Linked DNA regions of Homo sapiens: region 2 is linked to region 1. The links come from fine-mapping of genetic effects on gene expression. Tissue or cell type: whole blood. Region 1 holds a variant in brackets; the other region holds the start of a gene. All regions are shown on one strand. Distances are from middle to middle. Region 1 overlaps HEAT2 (HEart disease Associated Transcript 2). Region 2 holds the start of ADRA2A (adrenoceptor alpha 2A).

Evidence for each region. PIP is the estimated chance that this variant, and not a neighbour inherited with it, causes the effect.
Region 2: ADRA2A starts here. The variant in region 1 is fine-mapped to the expression of ADRA2A in whole blood (TOPMed, PIP 0.95).

The regions. Positions count from the first base shown.
Region 1 is chr10:111,116,500-111,121,870 of GRCh38, reverse strand. HEAT2 (HEart disease Associated Transcript 2) reads right to left here. Exons shown (of 3, transcript NR_159949.1): 3 at 3,275-3,911. Among named protein-coding and RNA genes, the nearest start is that of HEAT2, 4.9 kb to the right of the region's middle. The variant G/T (reference allele first, on the strand shown) is at 2,548.
Region 2 is chr10:111,074,434-111,079,804 of GRCh38, reverse strand. It overlaps ADRA2A (adrenoceptor alpha 2A), which reads right to left and starts at 2,776. Exons shown (of 1, transcript NM_000681.4): 1 at 1-2,776. The coding sequence starts at 1,808. The coding sequence ends at 411. RefSeq lists a silencer at 2,764-2,813.

The DNA.
Region 1 (5,371 bases):
TAACAAAATTGTTCTTGCATCATCTCTCAGGGTCCCTAGGATACTGCTGTACCCATAGATGGTGCTGGAAACGATTTGATCGAAGGCTGCTATGGTGGGGAAAGGAGAGAGTGTCTGGTGAGTGCAGGGGTATCAAGTGCAGGGGTATACTGTGTTGTACATTGGCAGAAACAATCAGTGCCAGAGGAAACTGTTTTCCAGAAACCTATGTTAGTGCTTTAAGTGGCTGAAATGGCAGAGAAGTTTGGCTGCGTATAGGTGTATAGAAACAAGACAGCAATGGCTCAGAGCATGGGATGAGATGGAAGAGTCCTGAGTTCAGGTCTCAACTGCTGTTTCCTTATTTTATGACCATTGAAAGCCCTTTCACCCCTCTACATTCCCCTCCCTTACATGTAAAATGGGGGTGATATGAACACCTCCCTGAAGAGGCTGATATGAGAGTGAGAAATAGTTGCATAGCATTTACCACAATGCCTAGCACACAGTGAGTGCCACATAGTGGGAATAAATACTACCTATCACAATAAAAAAGGCCTTTGTGGCCAGGCACTGTGGCTTATGTCTGAAATCCCAGTGTTTTGTTTGAGAGGTCAAGATGGGAGGATTGCTTGAGGCCAGGAGTTTGAGACCCCCATCTCTACAAAAAATGAAAAATTTAGCTAGGCATGGTGGTGCACACCTGTAGTTCCAGCTACTCAGGAGGCTAGGATGGGTGGGAGGATCACTTGAGCCTGAAAAGTCAAGGTTACAGTGAGCCATGACTGCACCACTGCACTTCAGCCTGGGTGGCAGAGCAAGATCCTGTCTCAAAAACAAAAAAAAAAGGAGGAGGAGAGTCTTGTGACCAATCAGATGAACTGAAAGGCAAGATGCCATTGTGTGAGAACCAAGAAGGCCAGAGAAACTACTCAATTCTATGGCCCAACATAAGAGATAGAAGATAAAAATTCAAAGATTTACTAGGTGTTATGTTAGAGAAAACAAAAGTAATGCTCAATAATCACCCCCTACTCTCTTTCTAGGGAAATTTCCCAACTTCAGAGTAATGCATATGAGTCTGAACAAAGCATGGCAATACCAATGGGCTGAAGAGGCAGAAAACAGACTTCAAGGCAGCTGGAGAAGCTGGGAGTTGCAGGGCAGGATATCACAGAGGGAAAAGCTGAGGACAGAAGTCTAGAAGTCTTGCACCCTGGAAGTTGAAGACCGAGGAGTGGGCTGTATATGTTCAGGGTGTAACTATCTAGGTCTTATCAGAGAATGCCTACTACAAGTTTGAAAGCATAATAGAGAGGGTGAAGAGTGCTGGTGGACATAGCACTCTGACCCACACCTCATTAACATGCTGAGTACCCAAATAAGATATCAGACTTAAAGGAATTGAGGGAAAATGTTATCCTAATTCATAAACAGATGGCTATCTCAACAGGAAGAAAAACGAGAGCTGTACAATTGCTAATGCAAAAATTTTACTAGATGGGTTTAACATCAAATAGGAGAGAGCAGAAGAAAGAGTTAATAAACTAAAAAATCCATTGAAAGTATTAATCTGAAGAACAGAAAGAGATTAAAGAAAAATAACCAGAGCCTTGATGACTAATAGGAAAATATCAAATGACTTTGTATGTCTATAATTTGAATGCTAGAAGAAAAGAGAATGGGAATTTCTCCAGGAAAATCTTTGGAGACATTAATAGAAAAAAAATCCAAATTTGGTGAAAACTATTGACTTACAGAACCAAGAAGCTCAGTGTTTTACCCTGCTTTTTTCAAGTAGGATAAGAAAATTAGAAATAAAACCACAAAACAGCAAAACCTGACACATGATAGTTGAATTGCTGAAAGCCTCCCTTGCTTCACTCTGCCCCAACCCCTCTTCCTCCTAACCAGTCTGACTGGGACATTGCTATGACCTCAGAGTTGCCCTGGGCCAAGCAGCAGAGTTGAAGGAGAGGTACCTACCCTTAAGCTTGGTCACCAGCGAGATACGTACCAGGAGGATCCAGAGCCATGGGAGCAGCAGGCATGGGTGTAAACATGTGAGATGCGACTGCATAACACAGGTCAGAGCCCAGGTGCACACCACTGTCCATCTCTACAGAACAGAGCCCAGTGAGAGTTATAGGATGAGGAACACTATCTATTTCTTCAGAGAAATAAGGGTTGTCCCTCGGTCAAACATCAGCCAGGCTTCCCTCTGTATTCATCCATCTCCTCTGACCCCTAGAGCCAAGTCTACTTAAAACTGAATTCTGACTCCAGAAAAGAGAAGGTGTGTTACGGTTCTCCAGAGAAAAAGAAGAAACAGGAGAGAGAGAGAGAGAGAGAGAGAGAGAGAGAGAGAGAGAGAGCATGAATGTGGTAGGCTGGCAGGTTGGAGATCCAGGGAAGAGTTGTAGTTCAAGTCCACATGCAGTTTTCTGGCAGAAATCCTTCTTCTTCAGTCTTTTTCTATTAAGGGGGAAGTCAGTTTTTTTGGTTTTGTTTTTCTATTAAGACTTTCAACTGATTGGAGGAGGCTCACCCATGTTATGGATGGTAATC[G/T]GTTTTACTCAGTCCACTGATTTAAATGTTAATCTCATCTAAAAAACACTATGATAGAAATATCTATAATAATGTTTAATCAAATGTCTGGGTACCATGGCCTAGCCAAGTTGACTCATAAAATTAACCATCATACTATCATTCTGAGAAAATGTGTCTCCTGTAGGAAGGGCCTGTGCAGGACAAAGATGAGCCTGAGGACAGCACCAACTAAGGGTATAGAAAAGGGGCTGTGACACCAAAATCTAACATGCTCCAAGGCAGCACCAATGGAATTAAAGTGGCCCATTTCCTTCCAAGGAGACTAGACCCAGAGCTGCTCCAACTTAAGCATGTATGTGAACCACCAGCCTCCTGATCCAGGAGGTCTGGATGTGGGCGTGAGAGTGAGCAGTTCTCACAAGGCCCTGGTGGCTGCCTGTGCCGCTGGTCTCTGGGCCATAATTTGAGTAGCAGGGTGGAGGGCCTCAGAGCCTAGATTCCTAGGTCTCATCCCAGCTCTACTCTTCGTTTGCTGTGTAACTTTGAGCAAGGGAGGTACTTAACCTTCCAGAATCTCAGTGTCCTCATTGATAACGTGGGAGGTAACAATATCAACTTCAAAAGGTGATTGTGAGATTAAAAGAGAATATGAACATGAAGTACATGGATAGTTTGAGCTCAATAAAAGCTCCTAGCTACTATCATTATTATGGGCACCTGATTTTTAAAGAGTACATGTTAGGTAGGATATAAATAAATCTTATATTTGGTGATCAGCATGGGGAAAGGACCTAAACATACAGCCACAGGAAGAAACGTTGATAAAATTGAAACCATTCACTCTAGAGAGGAACAGATGTAGGAAGGAGGTGGGAGGGAAGTGGAGGCCCAAAAGAGGTGATGAAAGTCTTCCTGAACATTCTTGAAATGGAGCGTTCATGGAAATAAAGTGAGAGTTATCCTGCAAGCCTCCATGAAATTAACAAAGAACAAGATGTGGAGCTTCCTGGTAAGTCAAAATGAGATCAGTGACAAAGCTTGGGAGTATCCAAAGCTGACCAGAAATGAAGAAGGTTGTGTGAAGGTTGTGTGGACCACCAGAGGCACGACAGCAGACTGTGCCACCACCCCTTCACCAGAAAGCCAACAGGCTGGTGCCACAGATTCATGTGACAACGCCCACACCCTCCAAGCACTTCCAGAACTCCAGAGCAGCTCTGTCAATGGCTCTCCTGGAGCACGGCCTCCTTCCTGCACTCAGAGTCCCGGCGCTCCAGCTCTGCTGTCCAAGGGCCACTCCTGGGGGACAGTTGGCACATTCCAAGCTTAGTCACGATGCATCAGACAATTCATTCAGATTTCTTCAGTTCCATTACCAAGCCCTGTGGGAGCCAAATGGGAAAAAGAATCAATGCATAAGCTGGCCAGGGAAGTGGCAGTGTCCAAACAGCCTGCTCCCCATGAAAACACTGGCCTGTCCTTACCCCAGACCCCCAGACCAGGACTACCATGTTGCCAGGACAGTCAGACAGTCACACTATCCCATCTGACAACCACTGCTACACAGGCCATCTGCTCCATGGCCTCGGGGTTGCCCTTAGACCTCCTCCCCATGTCTCAGCAGTAGCAGTGGCCCCCAGGAGCAGCCCCACTCTGCTCCCCTCTCTGGGGCCTCCACACTGCTGTGCATTGCCCATGTACTTGTGAGGTCATCGAAACTCTTGGAACCTCAGTTTCTTCATCTGAAAAATGAGAACAAGAATAAGAATAATACCTACCTCACAGGGATGTCATGAGGTTAAAAGAGATAAAGATACCTAAAATATTTAACCTGATTCTTGGCATTTGGTACTGCAGAAATGTGGGCGTTACACCCCATGAGAGAGATACCCTGCCTTACCACAGAGGAGGCTCTAAGCAAGTGTTCATTAAACTGAATCATGCTGGAGAATACTCATGGCTCCCGGGTCTGAACTAAAGCAGATATCGGCAGTTGCTTCCCTCACCTCCTCACCCTTGTCAGCAGGAGCCAAGGTCACAAAGCTGGGGCCTCACCCTCTAAGCCCTACCCAGGGAGACAGGTGCTCTGCAGGGTTGCAGAAGCCCAGAGCTTACGCTAAGGGAGCTGCTTGAAATCACAGCTCCTTCCGGGCACCTCCCCAGCAGGCCTTGCTCCCAGCTCTGTCAGGCTCAAGCAGCTTTAGCCTGAACGTTCTGGCCTCGGCCTGACGCACCCCTCCCTCGATTAAAGGGCCACCCCCACCCACTGTCTGACCTATGGATTGGGACAGACCTGAGGGTGTCTGTGGCCTTGGACCCCCAATCCCCAGCCAGCCGGGGCTCCTGCCACTAGGCTTATTTGGGACAACTCAGTTAACAGTTGGACATCTGTCGTGTGCCAGGCTGCGTGCTAGGAACAGGGGAGGACCAGTGCTCGATGTGCAGAGGGAGGGAGGGATATGGCAGCGCCAACACCTGTCGCCTGGGGCGGCTGGGCAGGTCCACAGGGACCTCTCACAGATTCTGTAACAATGCAGATTCATAGGGCTCCTGGAAATGATTGCGTGGGGATACAGGGCACGTTCCTCAGAGAGGAACTTACAGACCGGTGGAGGAGATGTACTCCCGGCAGAGGACAGAGACCGGGGAGCACGGGTCAATCCTGGTGGGGCAGCAGGCATGAGCACCTGAAGCAGTGAAACATTTGTGGAGGGTCTTTCAGTGCCTGGAATCTGAATCAGGATGCTCAGAGAAACACTGACTGGGAAAGGAAGACACGCGCCTGCAGGTGCTGGTGTGTCCTGGAAGCTTCCATGGAGTAGAGGGCGATCTTAGAGCTCAC
Region 2 (5,371 bases), 42 kb after region 1:
TTGGGAATGGAAGGGGAATTAGCCAGGGCTAGGTAACCCCCATCCATTAACCTTTTGTGAGCCATGCCCTTGTAGTCCAGTGCTTGCTCTGAAGAGCTGTGAGGGCTGTACCAGGCGAAGAGGGTGAAAATACCTTTAGGAAGCAATAGTGATTAGGGGTGGCCCACTAGGAAGATGGCTCCAGGTCAAGAGTGGCCAAACCAACAACTGGGGATGTGTGGGCCTGGCAGCAAGAAGCTTCCCTTGTAGGAGCAGCAGACGCCCGCCCGCAGGAGGCTGCAGAGCCACCCCAGACGAGGAAACGCAGAGCAGGCAGCGCCCGGGTTTCTGAGTGCCCTGGGGCTAAGCACCCCTCGATGCCCCCCGCTGCCTGCAGTCAGCGTGAGTCTACGCGGGCGCCAGCGGAAACCTCACACGATCCGCTTCCTGTCCCCCCGACAGAGGATCTTCTTGAAGGCGCGGCGGAAATCGTGGTTGAAGATGGTGTAGATGACCGGGTTCAACGAGCTGTTGCAGTAGCCGAACCAGAAGAAGAATTTGAAGAGCGTGCGTGGCACGGAGCACCCGACGGCCGTGAGCGTGTAGGTGAAGAAGAAGGGGAACCAGCACACCACGAACACTCCGATGACCACGGCCAGCACGAACGTGAAGCGCTTCTCGCGGTTCTGCCGCCCGCGCCAGCGCGACGCCTTGGCAGCCCCGACGCGCTCCTCCCCCGGCCCTGCAGCCGGCGTCCCGATCCCCGTCGCCCCCGGCCCGCGCCGCGGCAGGCTGTCGCCCGGCTTCACCTGGCTCGCTCGGGCCTTGCCTTTGCCCCGGGGACCGCGCTCGGGTCTGCGGGGCCCTGGAGGCCGCTCGGCGTGGTCGGAAGACGAGCTCTCCTCCAGGTCCAGCGCGTCGGTGTCGCGCGGCCCGGCCGGCGCGGGCTCGCCAGGGGCGCCGTTGAGCTGGGTGGGCAGCGGTTCGGCCTCTGCGCCCCCCGGGCCCGCGCTGCGCTCGGGGCCCAGACCGTTGGGCCTGCGCTCGGTGCCCCCCGGCGGCGCGGCGACGGCGTCCGGACCCCGGCGGCTGGGTGGCACGCGGGTGCGACGCTTGGCGATCTGGTAGATGCGCACGTAGACCAGGATCATGATGAGGCAGGGAGCGAAGAAGGAGCCGATGCACGACGAGATGACGTACCACTTCTGGTCGTTGATCTCGCAGCGCGGCTCGGCCGGCTGCGGGCCGCCGCCGCCGCCCTTCTTCTCGATGGAGATGAGCGGCGGGAAGGAGATGACGGCCGAGATGACCCACACGGTGATGATGATGGCCTTGATGCGGCGCGGCGTGCGCTTCAGGTTGTACTCGATGGCCTGTGTGATGGACCAGTAGCGGTCCAGGCTGATGGCGCACAGGTGCACGATGGACGACGTGCAGAAGAGCACGTCGAGCGCCAGGTAGATCTCGCACCAAGCCTTGCCGAAGTACCAGTAGCCCATGACCTCGTTGGCCAGCGAGAAAGGGATGACGAGCGTGGCCACCAGGATGTCGGCCGAGGCCAGAGACACCAGGAAGAGGTTTTGGGGCGCCTTGAGCGCGCGGCTCGTGAACACGGCGATGATGACGAGCACGTTGCCGAACACGGTGAGCAGCATGAGCAGGCCGGCCAGGCACACCAGCGTCAGCGTCACCTGCAGGGAGTAAGGGGTGGCCCGGGCGCCGCCCCCCGGCGCCTCGGTCCCGTTCCAGCTCGCGTTGCCCGCGTCCGGCTGCAGGGAGCCCATGGGCGCAAAGCTGCCCTCGGCCAACGGCTGCTCCTGGCGGAACATGAACGCGGGCGCCCGCTGGCCTGGGCCTGCTGCCAGCTGCCTTCCGGCCCGGCGCCCGTGGGTCCTCCTCTTCCTCCGGCGCCCCGCTCGCCTGGCTGCGGCTCACATAGGGAGGGGGCCGCAGGGAGGCCGGGCCCGAACTGGAGGACCGCTAGCGGCCCATGGCCCGGGTCCCGCGAACTGCGCCTGGCTCGCGCTTCAGACGCTCTCGGTGGGCGCCTTCTTGCTCCGAGCTCCTAATACAGCCAAGTTTTATTTCTAAGCGGCGGGAGAGAGTAGGGAGAGCCGATGGGTAAAGAGAGATTTATTCTTCAAGAAGGGAGAACAAAAATCATCGGTGGCCTGATAACTTGGAAGGATGACAGGAAATTAAATATATATATACATATCAATATCTGTATCTTGAATCTTGAGCCTGAGCGAAAGCAAGAGGTCTTACCGTGTGCGGGGCCCGCCCCCACCCCGGGAGGCAGCCGAAGGGTGCTGATGCGAGCTCGGGGGTCCTATGTCTGTCGCCTTACATCCCCGAAGCGATTACCGACTCTCTGGCTTCCCCCAGACGCTGCGGTTCTGGCCCGGCCCGGCCCGGGGCTGGGGCGCGGACTCTGCCGCCTCTCGGAGCGCCGCGAGACTTCCAAAGTTGTGCGCCCTGCTGGGGCTGGGGCACACTGTGCGGAGCTCCGGGACGGCGGCGGCGGCGGGGTGAGGAGTGTGGGGGCCGCATGAAGGCACCCCCGTCCTCAGGCGGGCCGGGGCAGGTGAACGATCAGCTCTCCAGGAGCCGCGACGGAGGCAGGGGTTCTCCTGGGCGTCCGCCTGGTGGGCGCCGAGCGCTGCTGGATGGGCCGGGGTCCGACGACAGCGCGAGTTGGGGCAGGAGCGCAAGGCGGGGAAGAAGGCGCTGGAGTGGCCGGGCGGCGGCACGCCGGCTGCTGGGCTTCTGCACCGAGCTGGAGCTGCTGCTGCTCCGCTGCGCTCACGGTGGACTCGTTTTATAGCCCCAGGATCAAGCAAGCGTTGCTGAGCAGCCGGCGTCAGCCCCCACGTGGGAAGCCGACCCTCCCCCGCCCCTCGCACCACCCCTCCGCCAGTCTAGCGCCCGCGCCTAGCGCTGGACCTCGGGGAGCGTTGCCCTCAGGCGGGACGAGCCCTTTGGAGAGGCGGGTACCTTGAGCTAGAGACTTAAAGAGGGAGCCCGGGGGTGGGGGGTAGGGGAGGAGCGGCCCCTGCTGGGAGTTGGCCATGCAGCTCCGGGCCGACGGAGCAGAACGCAACGGGCACCCGTGAGTGCCCCCAAGAAGCTGGATCTTGGGAGAAAAGGGAAGAAAAAAATGGAAGGGAATCCCCGCCCAAATCGAGGGAAGTAACCTCCGGTGTGAGTTACGTCTGGAGCAGCCCAGCTCCGGGCCAGAGCCGACGCGGTCCGCAGGTGCTCCTGGAGGCTGGGGAGAAAGGGGTCCTGGAGAGGGAGGAAGGCGCGGCTTCGGATGGAACCCCTGGGGCGGAATGGACAGCACCCACGGGGAAGTGGTACAAGCCGGAGTTCAGACCTCCGCTTAGGGAAGAAGCGGCTACGTGTCCTCCCAGCCGCGATGCTGTCTGCGGGAAACGCAAGACCCGGGGTCTGGACCGCGCCCCCTTAGACCGAGGTGGGGAGGGGTCCAGGAGCCGAGCGCCAGGGCAAAGCGAGGACGCACTGACACCTGCTGGCCGCTCGTGGTCACGGCTGAGAAGCGACCCGCTGACGCCAGGCGCCTCCTCCCGTCTCTTAGGTCTTCTGCCAACAGAGCCTTCTCCTATCTCCGAACAAATTGGTTTCTAAGCTCAGGAAAGGAGAACCCAGAGTTTGAATTGCACCCTGCCGTGTTGCAGAAATCTTCCTAAAGCAGATACTCGTGTGTCTACCCCTGGCGGGAGTGGGGGTTTGTCTAATAAAGTCACATCAGGAAGGGCTCAGCAGGCACCGCCGGCCAGAACGGGCATCCCACTCTGGACCCGCACAGCCCACCCTTCCTGCAGATCCGAGAGAGGCCAGGATCCTGCCTCCTTGGTTGCACAGCTCTGGCTTGCTGGGAATCATTATGTTTTTGTTGAGGACCGAAAGCTAGACTCCACTCCCGCCCCGCATCCCACCCCCATTCAGATGTACACACAGCATCCTTCAATAAGGGGAAGAGGGAGTAGAATATTTTCCATGTTCTCTCTGATAAGAATAGCGGTGGGGGCGGGGGGGAGTGGGTGTGCGGCGAATGGCAAGTTTTTCCGTGCGTGCTAGCTGTCCTAGGATAGATTTTAACGGTCACTAGAGCACTAGCTTGCACCCTGCTAGCTGCACTTTTCAGATGAGAGCAAGCAGTTTAATGGTAAAACCCAAGAGGGTAGGAAATTTCAGCAGGAGAGAGATTAGACTTAAAGGAATGTCGTCTTATTTAAGGAACCACTAAACCAAAATGCCTTGTGCAGTCACCTAAGTTGGAATTCCAAGGATGGAACAGGCTGCCTCTCTGTGCAGCCAGCTGCAGGCTTAGGTCTGGCTGGGGGCTGATGGCTAAATTAAGGGCCCTGAGAATCACCTTCATTCCCAGCTGATGTCTATAGCCCGCACCAGTGATACAGTTATTGGTGCTGCTGCTGTTCATGTAGTCTCAAAATCTGTACTTTCCAAAGTATTTCACAGAAGTCTCATTTGACTTCAGTACCTTTGTCTCCCAATCTTTGCCCTAATGGTATAAACTCCCTTTCCAGTGTTAGTTCTGAGGAGCCTTTCTAATCTCCCTTTCTGGACAATCTAAAGGAAGCTGAGAAGACAATTTCCTCGCTCTGTTGAGTCACTCATTTTCCATCTTCTACTAAAGTCTCTGCTCTGAGGCTCTTGGCAGGGGCTTTGGACATCGCCAGTAGGCTCAGTTGGAAACATGGCTACAGTCATTTTTGCACAGCAACTAGGAACCCCACACTTCAAGTATGAATACTAAGAGACAAAAATCAGAGCCCGTGGCAATCTGGGGTTTGCTGTGTTGCTGTTTGTAGAACTCGGGAACTGAGTCTTAGGAGACCATCACTTACCATCTGCACCCCAGCTTCCAACACACTGCTCTTCTTCCTAATTTCAGAATCAAAAGAGGAAATAAAAACAAAGTTTACAGTAATTATCTTTCTTGAAATTTCTGCTGCTAGCCTGTGTATGACACCTCTTGTCATATTTTCTAAATGCTTCCCAAACAGCCAGGTGGTTTCTTAATTCCCTGATTTGGAGTCTTTTCTCCTAAAATGGGAACAGGTCTTTTCAGAGCCAGGAACCCTGAGGCCAATACACAACGAATACCAATAATAACAAGTGCTGCATTTTATTAAGTACCATGATGTATGCACCATGTGTAGGGTGATATACATGGCCCCTTTATACACAGAGTTCTTATTCCTGTCACATGTTCCTTATCACCAAAGGTTCTGCCTCCTCAGTTTGTCACACAGGGTCAGTATCTCTGAGCTTTGAAAAGCTATGTGGACACCATTAATTTTTGCTAGAAGATTTCATGCTGTGCAAGCTGAGTGAGACATTG